7 linked regions of the Homo sapiens genome follow. The protein of the gene in region 4 interacts with the protein of the main gene of each other region in a pairwise test. Each region holds a gene or a part of one and is shown on either strand. Other genes may lie near its edges.

Region 1 (3,500 bases), on a different chromosome or scaffold from region 4:
TCATCTGCCGGGGATTCAATCAGGGGTCCCTGAATGGAGGAAGAGAAGGGAGTCAGTGCAGAGCAGTGGGGCCAGCATGCACCAGAGAGCATCCAGGAAGGAGGCCCAGGAGTTCCTTCCTCCATTCATCCCATGTGCACTTTGCTGAAATCTCTTTAATACGTTCCTCTAATGTCTAATACTCAATTATCACCTTATGTGGTGTTTACTAATCTCATTAACTTCCAACAACAATTCCATAGTAAGATATTATTATTGTCTCCATTTTATAAATTTGAAAACTGAGGTAGAAATGGTTAAGTACCCTGCGCAAACTCCCTCTTATACCGGGACCCAATCCAGTCAGTTCCTTCTGACCCCAAAGCCTGGAGTCCTGCTGAGGCCTCCTGTGTGTGAGTTCCTGGGCTGGGTGCTGGATGGACTGTGGTGGACACGGTAGGCATGGGCTCTGACCCCCTGCATCTCACTCTTTAACTGAAGGAGGTGGCAATAAATGACTGCCAAACAAATGAATATCTATGTGTGAATTATGATAAGATGGGTAGGAAGAGGGCAAGTGAGAGAGAATTACAGGGCCTTGATTCAGACGTGGCACCTGCCCTTGAGAAGCTCACAGTTTGGTGGTGTGGGGAAGACAAGTCAATAAAATAAATTATATCCCTCTTATAGGAAGAATAATGACCCCTCCAAAATGTCCATGCCCTAATCCCCTGGAACCTGTTGATCTGTTACCTTACATGGCTAAAGGGGCTTTACAGATGGAATTAGGTTAAGGATATCGAGATGGGGAAATTATCCTGGATTACTTGGGTGGGCCCAGTGGAATCACAGGGGTCCTTACAAGTAGTGAAAGGAGGAGGGCATAGATAGATTGGAAGATGCCAGGCTGCTTGACTTGCAGACAGAGGGAGGGTCCTGAGCCAAGGAATGCAGGTGCCTCTAGAAGCTGGAAAAGGTGAGAAAGCGCATCCTCCCCTGGATCTTCCAGAAGGAACTGGCCCTGCCTGCCAATGCCTTGATTTTAGCCCAGTGACACCCATTTTGGGCTTGTGACCTTCAGAACTTTAAGTTAATCCATGTTTGTTGTTTGAAGCCAGGAAATGTGTGGCAATTTGTCACAGCAGCCACAGGAAACTAATATAGACTCACACGGTGGAGAGTGACAGAGGCTGCCTGGGAGGCTTCTCCTTCATCTCTGAACTTCCCTGCTACTCCCCTGCACAGCAGATGCTCCATGGAACTGTTTGTGATTTCACTCCCCCATTCTGTCTTGATTACTCAAATTAACATTCACACACACACCACATCTCAGCACTGCTGTTATCAAGGTCACCATGACCACTGCTTGGCTGAGTCCAAATGTCCGTCTTGCAGTCTTCTCCTTCTTGGACTTCACAGCAGCAGAGGACCCAGCTGCTCACCTTCCCTACACAGAAGCCCTTCTTGACTTAACTACAGGACATCGTGCTTTCTGGCTCCATCTTACCTTCTTGGCAGCCCTTTTGCTAGATGCTCCACATCTCCCTGACCCTAAATATCAGAGCAGCCCTGAGCTCTTCTTTACTTTTGCTTTGCAATCTCATCCACTGTGTTGTCTTCATGCCATCAATAAACTGACGACTTCCAAATTTACACCCAGCCCTCTCCCCTCTGCTGACTATAGTCCTTGATCCAATAGTATACTTCAAACCCACACATCTTGTCGAAAGGCACACAAAATGCAACCTATTCTATCTGAACTCCTCCTTTTTTCCCCCAGATCTCTTTTTTTGCACAATCTTTTCTGCCTCAATGACTGACCCCTCCATTCTACCCATGGATTGGGGCAAAAATCTGGAAGTCTTCTTGCTCCCTCTCTGTCATTCACATTGTACACCCAATCTATTGGCAATTCTCATAAGTCTAACTTCAGAATTTACCCATAAGACAGCCATGTCCACCACCACTGCCATCTTGGTTCCAGCCAGCACCACTTCCTGCCTGAGATGTTCACCAGCCTCCTCTCTATCTTCTCTGCTCTGTCTTTCCTCTACCACACACAGTCTCTTCTGCACACAACAGCCAGAGGGATCCCATGAAAATAAAAGTTAATCATGGTCTCTTGCACAAAACTCTCCAAATGCTCACAGTGCCCTGTGCAGCCAGACACGATTCACACACAGGCTCAACTTCTCCAAAGTCATTTCCTGTTCTTGGCCTTGCTTCCCTCTGTCTAATCACACAGACGTCCTTGTGGATCCTCTCACTGGTCCCTCCTGTGCCTGAGCCTCACCCTGTTCTTCCCTCTGTCTGGAGTGCTCTTCAATCTCACAGTCAGTGTCAGATCTGAGCCTCCTTCATTCCTGTGCTCAAACATCACTAACAGAAACACAAGTCATCCTACAGAATGGTAGAAAATATTTTCAAGCCATACATCTGAAAAAAGTTTTAATATCCAGAATATATTAAAAAAATTCTTAGAACTCAACAGCAGAGAAACAACACAGTTTCAAAAATAGGCTTAAACTCTGATAGACTTTCTCTAAAGGTGATATACAAATCAAAAGAAGCATATGAAAACATCACTAATTATTAGAAAATGCAAATCAAAGCCTTAATGAGATATCACCTCACACGCGTTAGGATGGCCACTGTCAAAAACAAACGAAAACCAAAAAGTAACAAGCGTTGGTGAGGATGTGGAGAAATGGGAACCCTTGTGTGACATTTGTGGGAATGTAAAATAGTGTAGCCACTGTGGAAAACAGTATGGCAGTTCCTTAAGATATTAAAAAACAGAATAATCTTAGAGTCCAGAAACCCTACTTGTGGATATACACCCAAAAGAATTAAAAGCAGGATATTGAAAAGATATTTGCATGCCCATGCTCACGGCAGCATTATTCACAATAACCAAGAGGTGGAAGCAACCCAAGTGTACATCAACAGATAAATGGATAAAGAAAATGCGGTAAACATACACACAATGCAATATTAATTACCCTTTAAAAAGAAGGAAATCTTGTCACACCTTACAATGTGGGTGAACCTTGAGGATATTTGTTAAGTAAATCGTCCAGTCACAAGATGAGCAATACTGTATGATTTCACTTATATGAGGTATCTAGAATAGTCAAATTCATAGGAAAATAAAGTAAAATTGGTGATTTCCAGTGGCTGCAGGAGGATGAAGAGGATGGGAGGGAAAGGGCGGAGTTATTGTTCAACGAATGTGGAGTTTCAGTTTTGCAAGATAAAAGGGTTCTAGAGATCTAGCACAACCATAAACTTAATAAAGTTGAGGTGGTAAATTTTATGTTATGTGTTATTTTCCACCGTAGATGGCTGGATGGATGGATGGGTGGATGGATGGATGGACGGGTGGGTGGGTGGATGGATGGATGGATGGATGGATGGATGGACGGACGGGTGGGTGGGTGGATGGATGGATGGATGGATGGATGGATGGACGGGTGGGTGGGTGGATGGATGGATGGATGGATGGATGGATGGATGGACGG
Region 2 (3,500 bases), on a different chromosome or scaffold from region 4:
GGCAAAGTTGAGAGCCACTGGCTTTGCTAATGAGCAATGCTGTATTGGCAGCATCAAAAGTCAGTCATTTTGTTTCATTTTTTATTACTTGATACCATATTTATCAACTTGTGGGTTGGGGATGGAGAGGGTATATAAAACAACAGGTAGACATATAATAGAAAATGTCTATAAAACATTTCACAATTTAAGTTGTGCCTGCTTATAACGATTTCTTACATCAGTTTTAGATATAAATTACTGGTTATATAGGTTCAGCTTTCAGCATGTCTTAATTTGCCACTGGTTTTATGAATTTTCCTAGACTTATCATTGTAATAGAACATAATATTTCTTATTATTTTATAATATCTATATTACTAAAGTGTTTTCATTTCATTTCCATAGGTCATAGGTTTTGGATCTGTTAAAATTGCAGCATTCATAGCTATGGTAGGAATTCTGTCTATTGTGGCTCAGGTGAGTATCATTTTATCTATACTTAAAAAATTTAAAAAATATCCTGATAACCATAGTTTCACAGGAAGCCACATATAAAAATGCAGGAAGATATTCCCTGAGCTGCTACCTCAGTCCCTCACCCCCTGCTATGGTAAGGTCTTGCAAGCTATAGTATAATATCAGATCAAGAAACTGATGTGAATGTGGTCCACAGAACTATTCCTTCTTATATAATGTGTAGAGGTTATTTTCTTTTTTGAGGTTGTAATTTAGGGGAAATTTTTTATGTTTTTATTTAAAACAATGTTTTTAAAATTATATCCTTGACCAGGCAGCCCAGCCTGGTGACTGGCATCCACTCTTGTCTTCAGCCTTGCCTCCTCAGCTCAGGGGCCCTGGCCCCGATGCCACTGCCTAAGTCTCCTCGGAAGCCACAGTGGTTCCCCATCCCAGGCCCCTGGGGGCCTCTGGTGCTCCCCTTGCACCAGCATCATCTGCCATTTAGTGTTTTCTCAGAAAAGATGATTTAGGAGAACTTTGATACAACTTTCCCTACTTTTTAGAATATTTGTCGTAACCTCTGCTGGGTCAATTATTTTATTTGCTTTTACACCAACCAAAATAGTAAATAATTATAATCTATCTCTGGATTGCAAAATCAACTAGGAAAATGGTTCAGTGTTATTTTAATGTTGAAAAGTAAGTAGAAATGAAAAGCAGAAATGAAAATCTGTAACTGCTTTAACTCCGACTGTTCCCAGGACTGAAGAAATATGAATCAGAGCATTAAAACATATTCAGTGAGGGCCAGACACGGTGGCTCACACCTGTAATCCCAGCACTTTGGGAGGCCAAGGCAGGTGGATCACCTGAGGTCAGGCGTTCCAGACCAGCTTGGCCAATATGGCGAAACCCTGTCTCTACTAAAAATACAAAAATCAGCTGGGTGTGGTGGCATGTGCTTGTAATTCCAGCTACTCAGGAGGCTGAGGCAGGAGAATCGCTTGAACCTGGGAAGTGGAGGTTGCTGGGAGCCGAGATTGCGCCACTGCACTCCAGCCTAGGTGACAGAGTGAGACTCCATCTCAAAAAAGAGAGAGGGAGAATATATATATATATATATTTTCATATATATATTCATATATATTCATATATATTCATATATATTCATATATTCATATATATTCATATATTCATATATATTCATATATATATAATAGATATTATATATAAATATCTATTATATATAGGTATTGATAAATGATTTTCAGTGAGTAGAGAGCATTAACCATTTCCCTATCTATTGTAAATACAGTACCAGAAAAGATGAAGCATATTGTCCTTAAATTAATTCACTGTTGTGCCAAGGCACACTCACTATATTTTATGGTACTGCCTAGGGGTTGTTTTCCCTGAAATGGTTACCAGGAAAGCAGAGCATTCTTCTGTGGTAACCTCTCTCAAGGAGAAATGAGAAGGCCGCAAAACTACTACATTTGACAAGGCTTATGGGAATGCATCAAAACAAAGGCCGTTTATATTTTTGTTTTTGTTGAAATGTGTTGCAAATGTAAATTATGTTAACCTTTCAAGTTGATCATTTTGGTTTTTTACAAAATCAAACATAAACTCAGCCATCTTTTTTTTTTTTTTTTTTTGACACGGAGTCTCGCTCTGTCACCCAGGCTGGAGTGCAGTGGTATGATTTCGGCTCACTGCAACCTCTGCCTCTCGGGTTCAAGTGATTCTACTGCCTCAGCCTCCCAAATAGCTGGGACTACAAGTGTGCACCACTATGCCTGGCTAATTTTTGTATTTTTAGTAGCGACAGGGTTTCACCCTGCTGGCCAGGCTGGTCTCGAACTCCTGACCTTGTGATCTGCTTGCCTCGGCCTCCCAAAGTGCTGGGATTACAGGCATGAGCCACCACACCCGGCCAGCCCAGTCATCTTTCATCCAACCCCTTTTTAGACTTTCTCAACTAGTTATATTTAGCAGAGTATATATTTGTTAAAATCAAACTTACATCCCAATTCCAACTTTGTAAACTTCCAGCAGAAGCTCTCATATTCTGTAAATGTTCAGCAGGAGTTTGCTATTCACAGATATTTAAGTGATTAGTATTTCTCCAGAGACTGAGGCTGTCCCTCTCAGTCATGGTAACTGGTGAACAGTTGTGATATCCTTTCAGGAAGTGCCAGCAGAGCACCAGGTAGACAGGCTTCTTAGGGAGGAGGCTGAAAGCATTGAGCCCCAGGTCAGGCTGGGAGCCCCCAACACTCCACCCCTGTAGAAGGTCATCAGTACTGTCCAGACTCTGAGGTTGCAGGTCAGGCAGTGTGCCCTTAGAGGTCTCTGGTCATCAGGGAAGGGTCTTCACACACAGAGCTTGTATTTTAATTCTGTGTGTTGATGTGGTTTTTCAGAGTTGTCTCCTTTACTTTGCAGACGGCCTTTCTTAGCATCTTGATGAGATCATTAGGAAATAAGAATACTGTCCTCCTTGGCTTGGGCTTCCAGATGCTCCAGTTAGCCTGGTACGGTTTTGGATCACAGGCCTGGTAAGCCTCACTCTTAGATTCTCGTGAACTGCCAGACAGATGCCTCTTAGAGGAGCTTGGGGTGGTTGGGTGTGATGAGAAGGAAGCAAGGGTTATTTTGCTGGTTTGGTGTATTCAACATTGCAGAAACCATTAGGCTTTAATTTGGGGAAATGTGGAGCTAGATAACAGGATTATTTATAAAGACTACCTTTATGTCATTGGACTTTCACGGAATTGTTCCTTAATTGAATGTATCTCTCTCTTCCCTCCAGCCCCCAAATAAAGTTTTATGTCTACTTTTTAAAGCATATGCCAATTTTTTTTTCTTTCCCTGAGACGGAGTCTCACTCTGTTGCCCAGGCTGGAGTACAGTGGCATGATCTCAGCTCACTGCAACCTCTACCACCCGGATTCAAGCAGTTCTCCTGCCTCAGGCTCCTGAGTAGCTAGGATTACAGGCATTCACCACACGCCCGGCTAATTTTTGTATTTTTAGTAGAGATGGGTTTCACCATG
Region 3 (3,500 bases), on a different chromosome or scaffold from region 4:
AGCCTCTTGAGTACCTGGGATTACAGGCACCCATCACCATGCCTAGCTAGTTTTTTTGTATTTTTAGTAGAGACAGGATTTCACTATGTTGGCCAGCGTGGTCTCTAACTCCTGACTTCAGGTGATCTGCTCGCCTCGGCCTCCCAAAGTGCTGGGATTACAAGCATGAGCCACCCCACCCAGCCAACAAACGCTTTTTAAATATAAGTATGTCCCATGCAGCGTGTCCCCTAAAGAACGATGTGTTGTTCATCTGAAACTCAGATGTTACCAGGCGTCCTGTGTTTGATGTGACAACCCTGTCCACAGCCCTGGCACGGAAGGGGCAGTCGCTGAGGGTGCAGTCTTGGGGTGAGGGTCCCTGTGATGGCAGCCTGTGTCCAGCTTGGACTGGCCATGGGAAGGCCACTGTGTGGGCGGGTCTGGCCTTGGTAAAGGGCCACCCCCTGAGACCCACCGAGCCTAGTTCCAGTTTCCTCCTCACAACCCCAGCCTGGAAGGGCGTTCGGGTGTGGAGCAAGCCACAGGGTTTCCCCCCAGTGTGGTTCGCATTGGGGTGCCGGGTGGTTCCGAGTCAGCTGCCCCCTCTGCCTCCTCCCCGTGCCCATCACAACTGCCCCCAGTGCTGGGACCTCTGGGCAAGAGGCTGAGGCTGACACTCTGGAAAGGTGTGCAGTGGTGTTGTGGGGTCCCTGGGGTCCGGTCCACATACATCCCTGCTTGCCCGGCTCTTGGCATCCTGTAGGAGAAGGTGCCACAGCCTAGTGGGTGGGAGGGCAGGAGCCCCATCACTGGAGTCGGAGGTTGCTTTTGATGTTGATGGCAGTGAGGTTGCTTCTGATGTTGATGGCAGTGAGGTTGTTTCCGACGTTGATGGCAGTGGACTTGCCTCCAGGTTAGCTGCCTCCCCAAGCAGCTTTGGGGGTACAGAATGACCGACCAGTGTGGGATCCCAAACATCCTATCCCCTTGCCTGAAAGTGGGACGAGGCTGAAGCTGACCTCTCGCTGAGACCACCTCATTCGGCCCCGTCCTCTGCTGCCACGTCCTTCTTCCTGGTACCCCCCTTCTCCAGCCCCAAATAAGTCACGTTCACAGGATCCCCAGCTCAGGCTCTGCTCCTGGAGAAGCTGCCCTCAGAGGCTGCGTTGCCGATTCCTTTTTCAACGGAGAGGCTGCAGCGTGTGGCAGGTGCCACCATCTCTTGGAGTGAGGCAGCCTCAGGGGCTCTGTCCGGGGCTGCAGCCTGATTGGTGATCTTTGCACGCCCCTTCTCTGCCCTGGCTGGGCCATATGCCACATGGGGCGTGAGGGGCCTGCAACACAAGTCCCTCTGGGGGCTCGTGATGTGGTTGAGCTGGAAGATACATTCTGGAACATCTAAGACCCCAGCCACTGTCCTGAGTCTGGATGCCGCGGGTGCCGGGCATGGGGGCTCTGGGCCCGGGCCCTGGGGTGCTTGGAGGTGCTGTGGAGGAGGGGTGGGGCTGGCTTGGAGCCCATGGGATTCGATTGGAGGGTGGGAGTGTGAGAGAGGAGAGAGCGTGAACAGAGCCTTGGACAGAAAAGCCTGGAAGGATCAGGACCCTTTGGGGGGTGGCGGGTGAAGGTGGCGGGGTGTGGGGATACCCTGGGGACGGACAGGTCACTTGAGGCTACAGGACTTTGAATTCCACACTTAGTTTGGATCCCACCCTCTGGTGTGGGGCGTGTGAGTGGAGGGGGCCTGGCTAGGGAAAGGGGGGGGGCAGTGGGGAGTGGAGGGCTGCTTCGCTCCGAGAGATGGCGGCACCTGCCACCCGCTGCAGCCTCTCCGTTTAAAAAGTGACTGGCAGAACAGGAGCAGCTGCTGCCAGCTCCTGTCCATTTTGTCCTCTGAAAAGAGAGGTCGGGGTGGCCAGGTCCTCATTTTTCAGGAGACAGAAGAGAGCTGAATTTTTATGTCAAATCTCTTGGTTTTGAGTTGTTAGCAGGTAATTCCAATGTTTTATGAAAACAGCGGTGGGACGAATAAAACCTACGTATCAGTAAGTCTCGGCCTCCAGGCCTCTGGTCTGCAGCCTGTGCCACCGTGAGTTGGAAGAGTGGTGGACGGACTCTGTTCTCCCCGCAAAAGCCCTTTCCAGGGTGGCACATCCACGCCGTTAGTGCCCGGCTGCAGGGAGAAGCTCAAATGACAAATGAGGCTTGAGGTTTGCCGCGTTGGGCGTCGTGCTGAGGCCCAGCCGTCCTCACGGTGACCTTTGGCATGAGGAGTCCTGGTTCCACTCTACAGACGAGGACACTGAGGGCCAGCGGGGCCCAGAAACTTCCCTGAGTCACAGCTCACAGAGCAAGACATGGGCCCAGGTCTGCTGACCGGGTTTCCTTTTTATTTTATTGTGGTAAGAGAAATACAGAATGTACCACGTTAGCTACTTTTAAGTATACAATTCAGTGGTATTAATTACCTTCACGGTGTTAGGTAGCTGTCATCACTGTTTACCTCCAAGGCTTTCCCATCATCCTACTGCAAAACTCTGTCCCTATTCAACACTGACCCCACAACCCTCCCCAGCCCCTGCACCCACCGCGCTTTCTGCATCTCTGAGCGTGACTACTCTAAGGACCCCGTGTACATGGAATCATCCGATATGTGGCCTTTTGTGCCCAGCTCAGTTCACTCTGTGTAATGTCTTCAGCGTTCATCCACATTGCAGCCTGTGTGAGAATGTTCTACCTTTTCAAGGCTGAATGATGTTCCATCGTATGGACGGACCGCATGGCGTCTGTCCATTTACCAGGTGATGGACTTGTGGGTTGCCTTTCCCTTTCCAGCCATGGAAACAGTGCTGCTGAGAACCCAGGTGCACAGGCAGCTGCTGCAGTCCCCACCCTCCCTTCTTCTGGGGATATCAGGTCTGCTGATTTTATGTCTGAAGGTCATGGGCCACTGTCCCTTCCCTATGCCCTTGAATCTCTTCCATGGTGTGTCCACTGTGTGGTCTTCCTGGATACCTCCAGCAATGGGGAGCTCACTGTCTCCCAGAGCAGCCCATTCAGGGCTTAGTGTGTAGCCCACACCTGTGTCCCTGTAGCTGCCACTCATTAGCCTCCTAACCCAGGACGCGTTTCCTTGTGCCCTTGGCAGGGGCTCCGTATTCACTCTGGGTTCTGTGGTCCTCACTCTGCACCACAGACTCTGATGCCTCCCTTCTCCCTCCCCGATTTCCAAGAGAGAACAAGATCTAGCCATGAGAAGCAGGATGGAGGTGTCTTCAAAAACAGCCACTGGTGATAGAAGTTGTAGGAAGGTACCATGGTCTGTCTGCCTCCACGCAAACCTCACCAGGTTTCATCAAGATAGCACACCAGGAGTGGTGTGGCTCATGACTGTAATCACAGCACTTCTGGAGGCTGAGGCAGGATCACTTGAGCCCATGAGTTAGAAACCAGCCTGGCCAACATAATGAGACTGCCATCTCTACAAATAATTTACAAAGTAGTGGAGCATGGTGGTG
Region 4 (3,500 bases):
ACCGCTTTCACTCCTCTCTGTGAGTGCTGCAGACCACAGCTACTTCTAATCGGCCATCCGTTTTCCTTTATAATGAACAAAAAATATCTGCCTATAGCACCTGCCCTTGTCCTGCAAAGCAGCTCAGTGTTCACCGTACTTTTTGCTGTATGAATTCCCTTCGGATATCTGAAGATGACAGGCACAATTCCTGGCATTGGGCATGCATTCTGCCACCAAAGAGCTGTGTTGTTGGGATGGGTATGGCCCTCCTCAGGTGCCTCTTCTCAATAGGATTTTTTTTTTTGTCAGAGTAGTAATATTTTTAGTACTTTAGAGTGAGTCAATATATCAGATTTTTGAGAATTCAGGTGGCAATAGTAGGGAGGATTGTGGATGGATGGGGGAGGAAGAGATATTTACACTGCTGGATGCAGTGGCTCACGCTTGTAATCCCCGTGCTTTGGGAGGCTGAGGCGGGAGTATCACTTGAGCCCAAGAGTTTGAGACCAGCCTGGGCAAAATAATGAGACTCTGTCTCTACAAAAATTAAACAATTAGCTGGGCATAGTGGTGTACGCGTGTAGTCCCAGCTGCTTGGGAAGCTGAGGTGGGAAGATTGTTTGAGCCCAGGAGTTCAAGGCTGCAGTGAGCTATGATTGCACTACTGCACTCCAGCTTGGGAAAGAGAGTGAGACGCCATCTCAAAAAAAAAAAGCGAAAAGATATTTACACTGACTGCCTTCTGTATGTGTTGTATGTGTGTATATGTATTTATTATTGTACATAATTCTATATACTGTTGAATCTAGATAAGGGAACTAAGCCCAGCAGGAGTCTAGTGATTTGCCAAAGCTCCCCTCAGTGGAGGGGCCAGGATTTGAACCCTTTTGGTGTGACTTCAAAACCAATGCTTGTTTTTCTAATCAGGCTGAGAGTTGCGAATTGGCTATTTCAGAGTTGGTTATTGAATGTGGAAGAGCCTATTGTTTCAAACGTTTTGCTTTTCCATTAGATCAGATCCCTCCTGCACCCCACGCAGCTGGAATTAAGAAATTGCTTATGTGTTCATTATGTTTTATTTTATTTCTGACAGTTACTTGCTGGACAGAAGAAAAGCTCCCCCTTCTGGACATTTGAATACTACCAAACATTCTTTGATGTGGACACCTACCAGGTTTGGAAACCAATTTCACCTTTCCTTTTACGGGTAAAGGAGACTTGTTTCTTTAATGGTTGAACAACCAAATAATGTGAAAGCCTTTATATACTGAAAATGGTCTTACAAAAGTAAAGGGTTATTAGCATTTGAAAATACTATCATAAAAGCTCTAATGACTGAGTTTCAATTTTGTAGTAGTTGAATTTATTAAACTTAAAAAACTTCAGTAGAATTACTGCTATGATGTTTTCCAGGTCTTTGACAGAATTAAAGGATCTCTTTTGCCAATACCCGGGAAAAACTTTGTGAGGTTATATATCCGCAGCAATCCAGATCTCTATGGTATGTTTAGTACTGATTTGTTTACCGTATTTCAGTTGAACTTGGGTGAGTGTGAGGGTTGCCTGGAAATGTGGAGAACTGCACTATTGGTGGGGCATGCCATGTATTATTAGACTTTTCTGAACTTCAGTAGCAACCCTTGCAAGTAATTTTGGAGGAATACAATTATGTGTTATATTAGTGCCACGTCATCATTACAAGTACTAGTATATCCTTCAAAGGTCTTTAAATGGGGCTGAGCGCAGTGGCTCATGCCTATAATCCCAGCACTTTGGAAGGCTAAGATGGGAGGATTGCCAGAGGCTAGGAGTTTGAGACCAGTCTGGGCAACATAGCAAGACCCTGTCTCTACTAAAGGCTGGGTTGGCACAGTGGCTGCCGCCTGTAATCCCAACACTTTGGGAGGCCAAGGCAGGAGGATTGCTTGAGCCCAAGGAGTTTGAGACCAGCCTGGGCAACATAAGGAGACCCTATCTCTACTAAAAAATAAAAATAAAAAGAATGATTTTTAAAAATTCTTCAAATAACTTTACAACTTGAGACAAATTTAGTCACTTTGACTAGGTGGAGATTGGACCATTTGATGTTGGAGGAGAAGGTATTCTCACACTTTTTCATTGATATGCTGAGTTCCAGCTCTGCCCTCAGATGAGCTGGCTCCTTTTAGGATTTGGTCACCAGCAGTGGAAGTCTAAAACAGGATTGGGCCGGGGATTGTTGTCATCCCTGACCTTAATGCTGTCTGAGAAAAACTCAGAGGTCCACCCAGTACTCCTGAGGAAAAGGCCCCAACAGTGGCCTGTGTTTGAGGGGAGAAGAGAGTGCTGTCCGTGTGCCAGGTGCTGTACCAAAGACTGTGTGTGTACTTGATCATATCTCATTCTTGCAACAACCCTTGCAAAGTATCCCCACTTTTCAAATGAGGAAGCTGATGCTCAGTGAGGATCATTGATATATATGCTCAATCAGAAATGATAAATAGTAAAGCAGTCATATATGTTGATTTTAAATATGGACTCTAGGGAGCCTGGTGTGAAAACCATTGCACTGGCCCATGCTTTTCATCTGAGGGTTGTCAGGGTGGTTTCTCTGTCTCATTCATTCTTACTTGTAGCCTGAGAACATCCTGAGGGGCAGGCTCTGTGCCTCAGTGTCTTTAGTGCCTGGCAGAGGCCTTGGCACACAGCAGGTGCTCAAACAATTTTTAGCACCTTATTTTATGCTAGACTCTGTGCTAGAGGCTGAGGATTTAAAGATAAGGCCATGGTCCCTAGCCCCAATGAGGAAGAAGAGAGAACACTAACATCTGTTGAATACCTTATAAGTGCCAAGCGTGGAGATAAGCACTATTTTAGTATTTTATGCTATTTTATTTCCCATACTCCAAGGTAGCCTTATCTTACAAAAGAGAAAACTGAGATTAAGGAGATAACTTGCCCGTAGTTACAGAGTTAGCAATAATAATGGCAAACACACATATAATGCTTATTATGTGCCAGACACTATTATTAGGGCAGTACCTGTATTAACTCATTTAATCCTTATGCCAGATCCAACTTCATGAGGGAGATACTATTATTATCCCCATTTTATAGATGAGGACACTGAGTCACACAGAGGTCCAGTAACTTGCCTGAGATTATACAGCTAGTAAGTGCTGGGCTCAATTTTCAAATCAACACTGTAGCTCATAATCCATTTCTTCATCACTATGCTATACTGCCTCTCATGACAAAGCCAGGGCTTGAATCCAAGGCTTGCTTCTTTTCTGTGACACTAGTAGCCTCATTAGCTCATAGACGTGGTTAAAAGAAGAAGGTACAATATAGGTGAAGTGTTTGATAGCAGAGAGGATTAGGTTTTGTTGTGGGTGGAGGTTAGAGGAAGGCAGTTAAGAAAAAGATGACAATTTACAGAGTGTAAGGAAAAGATTGATAACTTTGACTACATTTCACCTAAAATTTAAAATTTCTACACAACAAAATAAACCATAAGTAAAGTAAAAAAATAAACCACA
Region 5 (3,028 bases), on a different chromosome or scaffold from region 4:
TGCCCTCCATGGTTTCCATCTGGTACGTACGTTGTCAAGGCCAAAGCTCTGCAAGTCATGGACTAGGAGAGAAGGGAGAAGGCAAGGGAGAAGGCGTCATTAGTAGGAGCAGCACTGGCCTCCTCCTTCCTCCCCCTGGACTGCAAACCACCTGTCTTCTCTGCCCCTCATTCCTTCTCCAGCCTGGCACCTCCTGGTCCTGCTTAAGGACAGCCAGAAAGGGCAAGCCTTGGGCCTGTGTGAGAGTTCACGCCCTCCTCAGGAGTCTTTAGAACAGACCCTGGTTCCTCCCTGACGTCCACAGGGAACTCTATGCCTTGACTACCACCATGGCCCTGCCTGCATCTCCGGAAACAAAACCCACCGACTATGGGCTCTCACTAACTAGAGCTGATGGCAAATCACTGAACCTCAAAGTGAGGTGGGATCTGAGAATGCCATCCACACTTTCCCTGCCTCCACCCTCAAAGCTCCCCAGAAGAAATCCCATGGGGACCCTGTACCAACTGTTCCAGAACAATTTATTCCTGCCCTCTAGCCTCAATCCCTCCTGCTGCAAGGAACCATACTTCAAAGATACATCCCAGACCTTTTACAGTCACCCAGCAGCCAGGTCAGAGGAGACCCAATCACAGCCCCATCCAACCTCCCCGCCATTCTAGTAGGGCAGGCTGCCCCAGAAGTAGGGGTTTGGCCTCCATGGGGGCAGGGCCACTTACTCTCCACAGCATGTACTGCAGCATGGGGGAGGGAGGAGAGAGAAGAAAGATTCAGAGCTTCACAATGAGAACTATGAGAGCAAGATATGTTGCAGGAGGGAAGACTGGAACATTCAGCCTCAGCAACACAGTCTGGCCCCAGCTAACAAGCCTCCTTCTGGGCCCCTCCTCGAGAGTGAACTAATCTGGCCAGAGAGGAGCAAAATAGTGGCCTAGAAGGACAAGAGGCCTAGAGCTCAAAGAGCCAAGTTCCTGACTGTGTGGCCTTGGGCAAATCAGTTGCCCTTTCTGGGCCTCAGTGTTCTCCTTTGCAAAGGGCTGTCCTAAGGATCACGTGGGATCTAAGATGGAAAAATACTTGTAAACTTTACACTGTAAGAGATTATTACCCACCCCAGCCCCAATCAACAAGGATGTTAGAAACTCACTCCCAGGCCTCAATTCAGCCAGATCTCTGGCCTTGGGCAACTGTACCTTTGCATTTATACATCCTTCCAAATACAGAGCACCCCCGGCCCGGGGATCCACAAGTCTAACAGTCCCAGGCCAAGAGGCTGCCACTCTGGCTGTGTGTCTACTGAGTGCCCGCCAGACCTTGTGCCAACAGCTTGACACTGATCATCTTCCTGCCCTCCCAGCAAGACCCTTTTCTCCCAGCTTCCTCCAGAGTGAAGAGGGGGTCCCAGAGCTCTGCAGGGTCCTCCAGCCCCCACACTGGCCCCTCCCCAACACAGCCCCACCCCCACAGATTGCCCTGAAGACCAGCAGAGCTACCCTCCAGGGGGCCCTTTCTTCCTGTTCACTTCAACCATTTTGAGAGGCCATCTTCATACCCTGGGCTCTGTCACTGTGCAGCTCTGTCCATCCTTTACTGTGACACCAACTCCCACCTTCCCCAACCCTGCCTTCAACCCCTGGGTTCCTCTTCACTTTCTTGCTTCAGCCTGGCTCTTCCTTTCAGGCACTAACTCCCTGGCATCCCCTCAACGTGCGACTATCTTCTCTCCATACACAACCTCTTCCCTGGCCTAAAGAGAAGTCTTTCTTGCTCCTTACTGCCACTTCCAGATCACTTTCCCTTTATCTGCCTTAAAAATGCACAATGGCTCACATCTGTAATCCCAACATTTTGGGGGGCCAAGCGGGAGGATCACTTGAGCCCAGGAGCCTGGGCAACATGGCAAGACCCTGTCTCTGCAAAAAAAAAAAAAAAAATTAGCCAGGCATGGTGGCATGTGCCTGTGGTCTCAGCTCCTTGAGAGGCTGAGGTGGGAGGATCTCGAGTCCAGGAGGTCAAGGCTGCAGTGAGCCAAGATTGTGCCATGGCACTCCAGCCTCAAAAAAAAAAAAAAAAAAAAAAAAAAAATCCCCAGCTTTGAAGCTCAGGGCAAAGCAGCCCTGCTTGTTTCAGTCACCTAGATATCGATATGGAACCTCCAGAACAGTTTTCCCATGCCATTTTTCAACAGCTTGGGCAACTGCCTGTCACTCTCTCCTGTACTACCTCTGTCACACGTTCTAGTGATTTCCATATCCACGTAGATGATCCTTCCAGTACCCGGGCCTCCCAGTTCCTGGACATCCTTTCCTCCCTGATCTTGTGCTCTGCCTACCCAAGCCACTTGCTCTGTTGGCCATTCCCTAAACTTTGTCATTAACAAAGCCCCTTCTGTGACTTCAATTTCAAGCAACTCATGCTCCACCAGCTTTCTAATTTCCTCCAGTTCCCCAATTCCAATAACTTGTTGACACTACACTCAGGACTTGTAGTCCCTTTTTCCTCCTGCCCCCTCACTGGCTTCTCCACATCCTGTCTTTCCTCCTTTCCTAGCTCATATGCTGTGGTCCAGAATCAAGATGAGTTCTTTACATATTTGACTCCCTCACCTTTGCAGGCACCTGGCAACACCAAACCCCATGCAATTGCAATGTTCTGTTGACTGAGTCCATTCCCACACAGACAACCATGCTGACCGCTCTCTTTGCATTCACAGCCGCGGACTCCAGGGAGGCCCTAGGGCTGCATCAATCCTACTCAATCTCCCCAGTCCACGCACTCTTCCACCCCCAAGTGACCAGTCACATCTTTTCTTCTTTCAAATCTCCAACACCTCCTTCCCTCTCTCCTCATTCTCAACTGAGGACCTTCCTTCCTACAACACGGAGAAGATGGGAAGACTCAGAAGAGACTCTCCATGTACTTCTGCCACACCAGCTACCACCCTACCTGTACCTACAGAGCCTGCCCTTCCTCCTGGTGCTAAGTTTGGACTTTCCACATATGTAAGGCACTAGATTCTGTCTTCTTT
Region 6 (3,500 bases), on a different chromosome or scaffold from region 4:
ACCTCTGGGCTCAAGCCATCCTCCCACCTCAGCCTCTCAGGTAGTGGGGACTACAGGTGTGTGTCACCACACCTGGTTAATTGTTTTGTATTTTTCGTAGAAACAAGGTTTCACCATGTTGCCCAGGCTGGTCTTGAACTCCTGGGCTCCAGCAGTCCACCCACCTTGGCCTCCCAAAGTGCTGGGATTACAGGTGTGAGCCTCCACACCTGGCCTTAAGTATTTTTAATGATCATAATTAATTCTGGGGAAAATATGGAAAAATGGGCATATGGCTGATAGGAACATAAATTGGACAGCCTTTCTAGCAAGTAGTTTGGTAACATATTTTAAGCCACTTAAGAAGCTTTTCCAGGGCTGGGGGAAATGGAGAAAGAATACTAATGGGTATGGGTTTCTTTTGGAGTGATGAAAATGTTCTGAAATTACATAAGGCTATTAGTCGTACAGCATTGTGATTTTTTTTTCATCTCTGCTGCTGGCAGATGAATTGAAAGAGAATTTTATCGTATACAAACCATTATCTCAATAAAGCTATTTTCTTACTTTTTTTTTTTTGAAACGGAGTCTTACTCTGTGGCCCAGACTGGAGTGCAGTGGCATGATCTCAGCTCACTGCAACCTCTGCCTCCCAGATTCAAGCAGTTCTCCTGCCTCAGCCTCCCAAGTAGCTGGGACTACCGGCGTGCACCACCATGTCTTGGCTGATTTTTGTATTTTTAGTAGAGATGGAGTTTCACCATGTTGGCCAAAGTGGTCTTGAACTCTTGACCTCAAGTGACCCACCTGCCTCGGCCTCCCAAAGGCTGGGATTACAGGTGTGAGCTACGGTGCCCGACCAATAAAGCTATTTGTTTAAAATAGTTAATGCCTTTGACCCAGTAACATGCTCAGTGATGTATAGTTCAGCTTTTATTACATCAAAAAATTGGAAACTTTTGGCTGGGCGCAGTGGCTCATGCCTATAATTCTCAGCACTTTGGGAGGCCGAGGCAGGCAGGTCACCTAAGGTCGGGAATTCAAGACCAGCCTGACCAACAATGGAGAAACCCCATCTCTACTAAAAATGCCAAATCAGCCGGGCATGGTGGCGCATGCCTGTAATCCCAGCTACCTTGGGAGGCTGAGGCAGGAGAATCCGTTGAACCTGGGAGGCAGAGGTTGTGGTGACCCGAGATCGCGCCACTGCACTCCAGCCTGGGCAACAAGAGCAAGACTCCGTCTCAAAAAAAAAAAAAAAAAAAAAGTTGGAACCTTCTTAGTTTATTTTTCGTTTATTTTTCTTTTCTTTTTTTTTTTTGAGAGAGTCTCGCTCTGTCTGTTGCCCAGGCTGGAGTGCAGTGGCGCGATCTCGGCTCACTGCAAGCTCCGCCTCTCAGGTTCACGCCATTCTCCTGCCTCAGCCTCCCGAGTAGCTGGGACTCCAGGCGCCCACCACCACTCCCGGCTAATTTTTTGTATTTTTTAGTAGAGCCAGGGTTTCACCGTGTTAGCCAGGATGGTCTCGATCTCCTGATCTCGTGATCTGCCTGCCTCAGCCTCCCAAAGTGTTGGGATTACAGGCTTGAGCCACCGTCTTAGTTTATTTTATTTTATTTGAGATGGAGTCTTCCTGTGTTGCCCAGGCTGGAGTGCAGTGGCACAATCTCAGCTCACTGCAACCTCCGCCTCCCGGATTCAAGCAGTTCTCCTGCCTCAGCCTCCTGAGTAGCTGGGATTACGGGCACCCGCCACCATGCCTAGCTAATTTTTGTATTTTTAGGTAGAGATGGGGTTTCACCATGTTGGCCAGGCTGGTCTTGAACTCCTGATGTCAAGTGATCTACCTGCTTCAGCCTCCCAAAGTGCTGGAATTACAGGTTTGAGCCACTGCGCCTGGCCCATTCATTGTTTTTTTTGAGAGAAGGTTTCACTCTGTCACCCAGGCTAGATTGCAGTGGTGTGATCATGGCTCACTGTACCCTGGAACTCCTGAGCTCAAGTGATCATTCCACCTCATGGCTGATGAGACCACAGGAGTTCATCACCACATCAGGCTAATTGTCTATGTATTATGTGAAAAAGTTTTAAAACCATAGTGTTTTTATATGTGAATTTTTTAATGAAGAGAATAGCCTGTCTTCACACTTTTTAGAGTACATATGTGGATAATGGATCATTTTAAAAATATTTTATTATGGAAAGCTTAAAACATGTGTAAGTAGGCAGAATAATATTGTGTGCCACCATGTACATAATATTATTTTTTTCAATTCCTGGCCAATTTTGTGTCTTCCATACCCCAGTTCTTTTCTACGTCTTCCTTATTGTTTGACACAAATTATTGATGTGTCATATCATTTAATCTAGGTATTTCAGTATATTTTTCTGAAAAAGAGACTTTAAGAAACATCTGCCATCATTATCACATGCAAAAAATTAATGATTCTAGTCAGTGTTCACATTTCCAATTTTCTTATAAATGTCATAAATGATACTTTTTTTTTTCTTTTCGAGACAGGGTCTTGCTCTGTCTCCCAAGCTGGAGTGCAGTGGCACAATCAGAGCTCACTGCAACCTCAACCTTCTGGCTCTAGCAATCCTCCCACCTCAGCTTCCCAAGTAAATGGGAGTACAAGCGTGCACCACCACACCTAGCTAATGTTTTTCTTTTCAGTAGAGATGAGGTCTTGCTGTGTTGCCTAAGCTGGTCTCAAACTCTTTGACTCAAGTGATCCTCCTGCCTCGGCCTCCCAAAGTATTGGGATTACAGGCTTTAGGTACCACATGTGGCCTGTTGTGTGTGGTTTTATTTGTTGTTTTTTTTTTAAACTCTTTTTTTCCCCACAAACCAATTTGTTAGTGTTTAGGTGGTTTTTTCTGTTTTGCTTTTTTGTTTTTTGAGATAGGGTCTCGCTCTGTCACCCAGGCTGGGGTACAGTGGCACGATAACGGCTCGCTGCAACCTCAGTTTCCCGGACTCAAGCTGTCATCCCACCTCAGCCTGTTGAGTAGCTGGGATTACAGGTGCCCGCCACTATGCCCAGCTAATTTTTTGTATTTTTAGTAGAGACGGGGTTTCGCCATGTTGGCCAGGCTTGTCTCGAACTCCTGACCTCAGGTGATCCACCTGCCTTGGCTTCCCAAAGTGCTGGGATTACAGACGTGAGCCACCATGCCTGTACTTTTTTTTCGATAAACATGAATTCATGTTAGTTGTATAATTTTTTTTTTTTTTTTTTGAGACGGAGCCTTACTCTGTCACCCAGGCTGGAATGCAATGGCACAATCTCAGCTCACTGCAACCTCTGCCTCCTGGGTTCAAGCGATTGTCCTGCCTCAGCCTCCTGAGTAGCTGAGATTACAGGCATACACCACCACGCCCGGCTAATTTTGTATTTTTAATAGACATGGAGTTTCTCCATGTTAGCTAGGCTGGTCTCAAACTCCCGATCTCAGGTTATCCACCCACCTAAGGCTCCCAAAGTGCTGGGATTATAGGCATGAGCCACTGTGCCCAG
Region 7 (3,500 bases), about 41 Mb from region 4:
AAGCGGTTTTATCTTGTTCTTACCTTTTTGCAGGAAAAGTGGCTTTAAAAAAATTTATATAATAAAACTATTTTGGAAATTCATTCTTTTAGAAAGAGACCTTGAGATAAATATTTTTTGACTCTGGATATTTCTATAGTTCTGAACACAGATTTTAAACCCACTATCAAAATGAAAACAATATAAAGCTATATTAGTGAGTCTCCATGTAGCAGTTTGTTTTTATAGTTACTGTTTCATGCTTAAAACTTCATTCTTACTTTCATTAATGTTACCCTTCACTGGTATAGCCACTCACTAAATAAGTATATTTAAAACATCAAAATTTTGAACTAAAGTTTGTGATTCTCTTATTCAGCAATCCTTATCTTATGCTGGCTGCATGAGTTAATTCAACATCCAGATTAAATATCCTGAAGTAGGTTCTATATATTTCCTCATACAACAGACATGGAATGGAAATGCCACTAGAAACTGCCCTGCTACTTTTAAGTCTGACCTTTGCAGGAGGTACACTTTGCTGTTCTATGATTGTATTCACCTACCTAAAATACAAATGAAGACAGAACATATCATTTACTGCACGATGAATTTTTCATTTATTAAATGAAAAACGTTTGCTAGACATTTTAAATATTAAGTATTTTGACTACACGGATTAATTTAAATGATTCTATCAGGCATTCTGATATTTAACAACTCTATTAAAATATTTATAGAAAAATAAAAGCAAATTGATATAAATTTTTGAGCAATTCTATTTTTGTAGAAAAAAGATAACCTGTAATTATAAAGATGTTTTTTGAATGTGTAGTATCCTAGAAAATAAAAGTTCTTGTGAAACTTAAAAAATGAATGAAAACCAACTAATAGCATGCAAGATCATAGATCCTGCATTAAATTTTTATTTGTGAAAATTTGAAAATTATGAGCTATAACTTATAAAGTTTGCCTTCTTATGTCTAAAATCTTTTAAAGGATTATTTGCATTTATGTAAAACTGGAAATGAAGTTATATATGAGTGCAAAGAAATTGACTTCTGCTCAAATATGTGTTGATACCCTACAGTAAATTGAATTAAATTTTTATCCCAACTGTTTGATTTTATTATTTCATGGACTAGCCTTACGTTAAGTGAAATACTATTTATGTTGTTACCACCCCTAAGAGTGACTCTGATATATTATGGATGACCCAGGACGGTCTTAAAGGTCTAGTTTTAAAAACTGCCTAGTTTGTAAGTATTTGAATCCAGTTCTTTTCTAAATTTTAATAATTTGACTCAAAATTTTTGCTACAGGGTCAACTTTTAAATTGTATATTTCCTCTGAGGCACACTGGGCATTTGGAGAATGGTTCTTCACTGGTGTAGAGAGCCAGGTTTACTGTTGGTTGCACCATCTGTTATCAGGCATGCAGAAACATTTTTCTTCTGGAGAAACAGAGGGGAAGGTGTTGTTACAGTGTACATGTTTCCTCTGTGTCGTTTTTAAGGGAAATAAACATGTTCCAAAAGATGCTGTTAAAATAAATATTTGAACACGTTTTCTGTTTCTAGGTTGCTCTTAATTCCAAACATTTAAATAAATGTGCATTTGAATAGCTTTAGGTGGTTTAGTCTATTAGCTGAAATGGAAAAGTTCATGTATTGACATCATCAATAATACTTCATAAAGGTTTATGTATTTTTATGTGTTTGGATTCCATAAGAAGTTGAACTTAGATAATTTTATCAAGAGTAGCACAGTGTTTCTCAGGTGCGAGCCAGCATACAGCGAGACCCTTCATGTGTCTCTGGATGCACATATATCTTCCCAACCTTAAACACAGCTCATTGAAATACATTAAAGCTACTGAAAGTGAGTTCTGATGCAAAACACATGTGAGGTGTGTAGGAACAATGAAAAGCTAGAGGATCTGGAGTTAGAGGAGGCATTGAGAGTGCTTTTCCCTTAAACGCCGTGATAGTCCTCCCTTGATCTAGAAGTATTCTCTTTGAATCCTTCCATCTCTTCCTCCTGGTACACCAGATGACTTCATCAGCATCTCCCTCTTTTATGCTAACACCTTTCGCTGTCAACTTTTGAGACCTCCCCATGTATCTATAAGCTTCCCAGTCTCTTATGGCAAATTTAAAAGTTTACAAATAGGTTCTCTCATTGAAAAAAAGCATTGTAGTAAAGTTTAAAGTGGAGCTCAGACAAATCATGACTTATTAAGAGACTACAGGAAGCCATTCAGCATTTAATAATAACTGTTTACAACATGAGGCAAAGCTAATAATGTTATGGTTTTATTAAGAGATCTGTCATCTCTGTTTTTCTTAAACTGGTTTAACAGTCAGAGCTTTGTAATGTGTTTCAGCTGAAGATTTATTATAGGCTTGTAAATTATCTAAATGTTCTTTTTAGACCCCATGACAGGAGCACAGAGGAACTGAGATAACTCTGTGTTATGAGAGGGTGGATGCTGGCTTGTGCCAAAATTATTTTAGAGTCCTGCTCTTTAGGGAAAACTTTGCTATGGTAATGTTTCTTTGAAAACAAATTTACCAGCAACTGCGTTACTTGGTGTTTTCCAAAGTACAACATCCAAGGCTTGAACCTTACCCGTTTCTAGGCCAGACTAGGCCAGCCTCTAGTTTTGATAATAATTCATACCTTTATTGGAATATATTTTGGATAGCAGTGAAGAATTGAAAGCAGCTCCTAAAGATTGGTTTGTTTGCTTTGAAAATGTTTACACTTATTCACTCTAAGCAGTGGACCATTTTGATATCAGGCCCTATACATAAGACCAAAACCAGAAATATTTCTAAATCTCAAAGATTTATAAGTACAGTACCTCTGGCTGAAAACTCGTTAAACATCTTTGGATATTTTTTCTTTATATCTTTATGTAATTATTTCTGTAATTAAGTGTACATTAGGGTTATTTGCTACTTAACAAGCCTAAAGGTATAGCTGTATATAGAATGTGCTCTGTGTTTTTCTGTTTCCTGCTTGGTTTGTTTCTGGTATGACTATGTCTACTTTTTATTTAAGGAATTTTGTGTAGATAATACTCTCACTAACTTGTAAATAGGATAAGTTATGAGATTTTTTGGTATTAGAATTTGTAATAATAATGACTTTTAGATTTTATTTGAAAAAGCTACTTGGAAAGCAGTAAATAGAACTATAGTGATATATATAGATACATAGATATATACTTTTTTCTGAGAATGTATAATATATAATTGTCAAAGATTTTTGGAAGTCTTTCAAAATATACTTAATACCATTTTGAGAACATACCTTCTAATTTATTTCCATAAGGCTGAAGAACTTTTATTTACAAAATGTAAGACTAGATAATGTATGAATCAGTGTTACTAGGACTTATCAGTACTTAAAATAGCAACTTGGCATTCTTTATTTTGTTTCCTGGTTGTTTTATTTGGAGGGATAATAAATGTCTAAGTTATTTCCATTAAAATTTTGAAATGTTTGTATACTTT

What was found.
Region 1: the proteins of YIPF1 (region 4) and SIGLEC12 interact in binary tests that used the Homo sapiens proteins (3 or more experiments, as listed by UniProt).
Region 2: the proteins of YIPF1 (region 4) and SLC71A2 interact in binary tests that used the Homo sapiens proteins (3 or more experiments, as listed by UniProt).
Region 3: the proteins of YIPF1 (region 4) and JPH3 interact in binary tests that used the Homo sapiens proteins (3 or more experiments, as listed by UniProt).
Region 5: the proteins of YIPF1 (region 4) and ERGIC3 interact in binary tests that used the Homo sapiens proteins (3 or more experiments, as listed by UniProt).
Region 6: the proteins of YIPF1 (region 4) and RETREG3 interact in binary tests that used the Homo sapiens proteins (3 or more experiments, as listed by UniProt).
Region 7: the proteins of YIPF1 (region 4) and TLCD4 interact in binary tests that used the Homo sapiens proteins (3 or more experiments, as listed by UniProt).

Annotation. Positions count from the first base shown.
Region 1 is NC_000019.10:51,491,801-51,495,300, forward strand, and holds part of SIGLEC12 (sialic acid-binding Ig-like lectin 12 isoform a precursor), read right to left. Parts: intron 30-3,500; coding exon 1-29. UniProt on the Homo sapiens protein: Putative adhesion molecule that mediates sialic-acid dependent binding to cells. The sialic acid recognition site may be masked by cis interactions with sialic acids on the same cell surface.
Region 2 is NC_000009.12:94,451,069-94,454,568, forward strand, and holds part of SLC71A2 (hippocampus abundant transcript-like protein 1), read left to right. Parts: intron 1-387; coding exon 388-459; intron 460-2,889; coding exon 2,890-3,002; intron 3,003-3,500.
Region 3 is NC_000016.10:87,640,508-87,644,007, forward strand, and holds part of JPH3 (junctophilin-3), read left to right. Parts: intron 1-3,500. UniProt on the Homo sapiens protein: Junctophilins contribute to the formation of junctional membrane complexes (JMCs) which link the plasma membrane with the endoplasmic or sarcoplasmic reticulum in excitable cells.
Region 4 is NC_000001.11:53,876,298-53,879,797, reverse strand, and holds part of YIPF1 (protein YIPF1), read left to right. Parts: intron 1-1,075; coding exon 1,076-1,156; intron 1,157-1,395; coding exon 1,396-1,483; intron 1,484-3,500.
Region 5 is NC_000020.11:35,552,078-35,555,105, reverse strand, and holds part of ERGIC3 (endoplasmic reticulum-Golgi intermediate compartment protein 3), read right to left. Parts: intron 735-3,028; coding exon of another isoform or gene 720-734; intron 63-719; coding exon 31-62; intron 1-30. UniProt on the Homo sapiens protein: Possible role in transport between endoplasmic reticulum and Golgi. Positively regulates trafficking of the secretory proteins SERPINA1/alpha1-antitrypsin and HP/haptoglobin.
Region 6 is NC_000017.11:42,599,375-42,602,874, reverse strand, and holds part of RETREG3 (reticulophagy regulator 3), read left to right. Parts: intron 1-3,500. UniProt on the Homo sapiens protein: Endoplasmic reticulum (ER)-anchored autophagy regulator which exists in an inactive state under basal conditions but is activated following cellular stress.
Region 7 is NC_000001.11:95,193,855-95,197,354, forward strand, and holds part of TLCD4 (TLC domain-containing protein 4), read left to right. Parts: 3' UTR 1-3,500.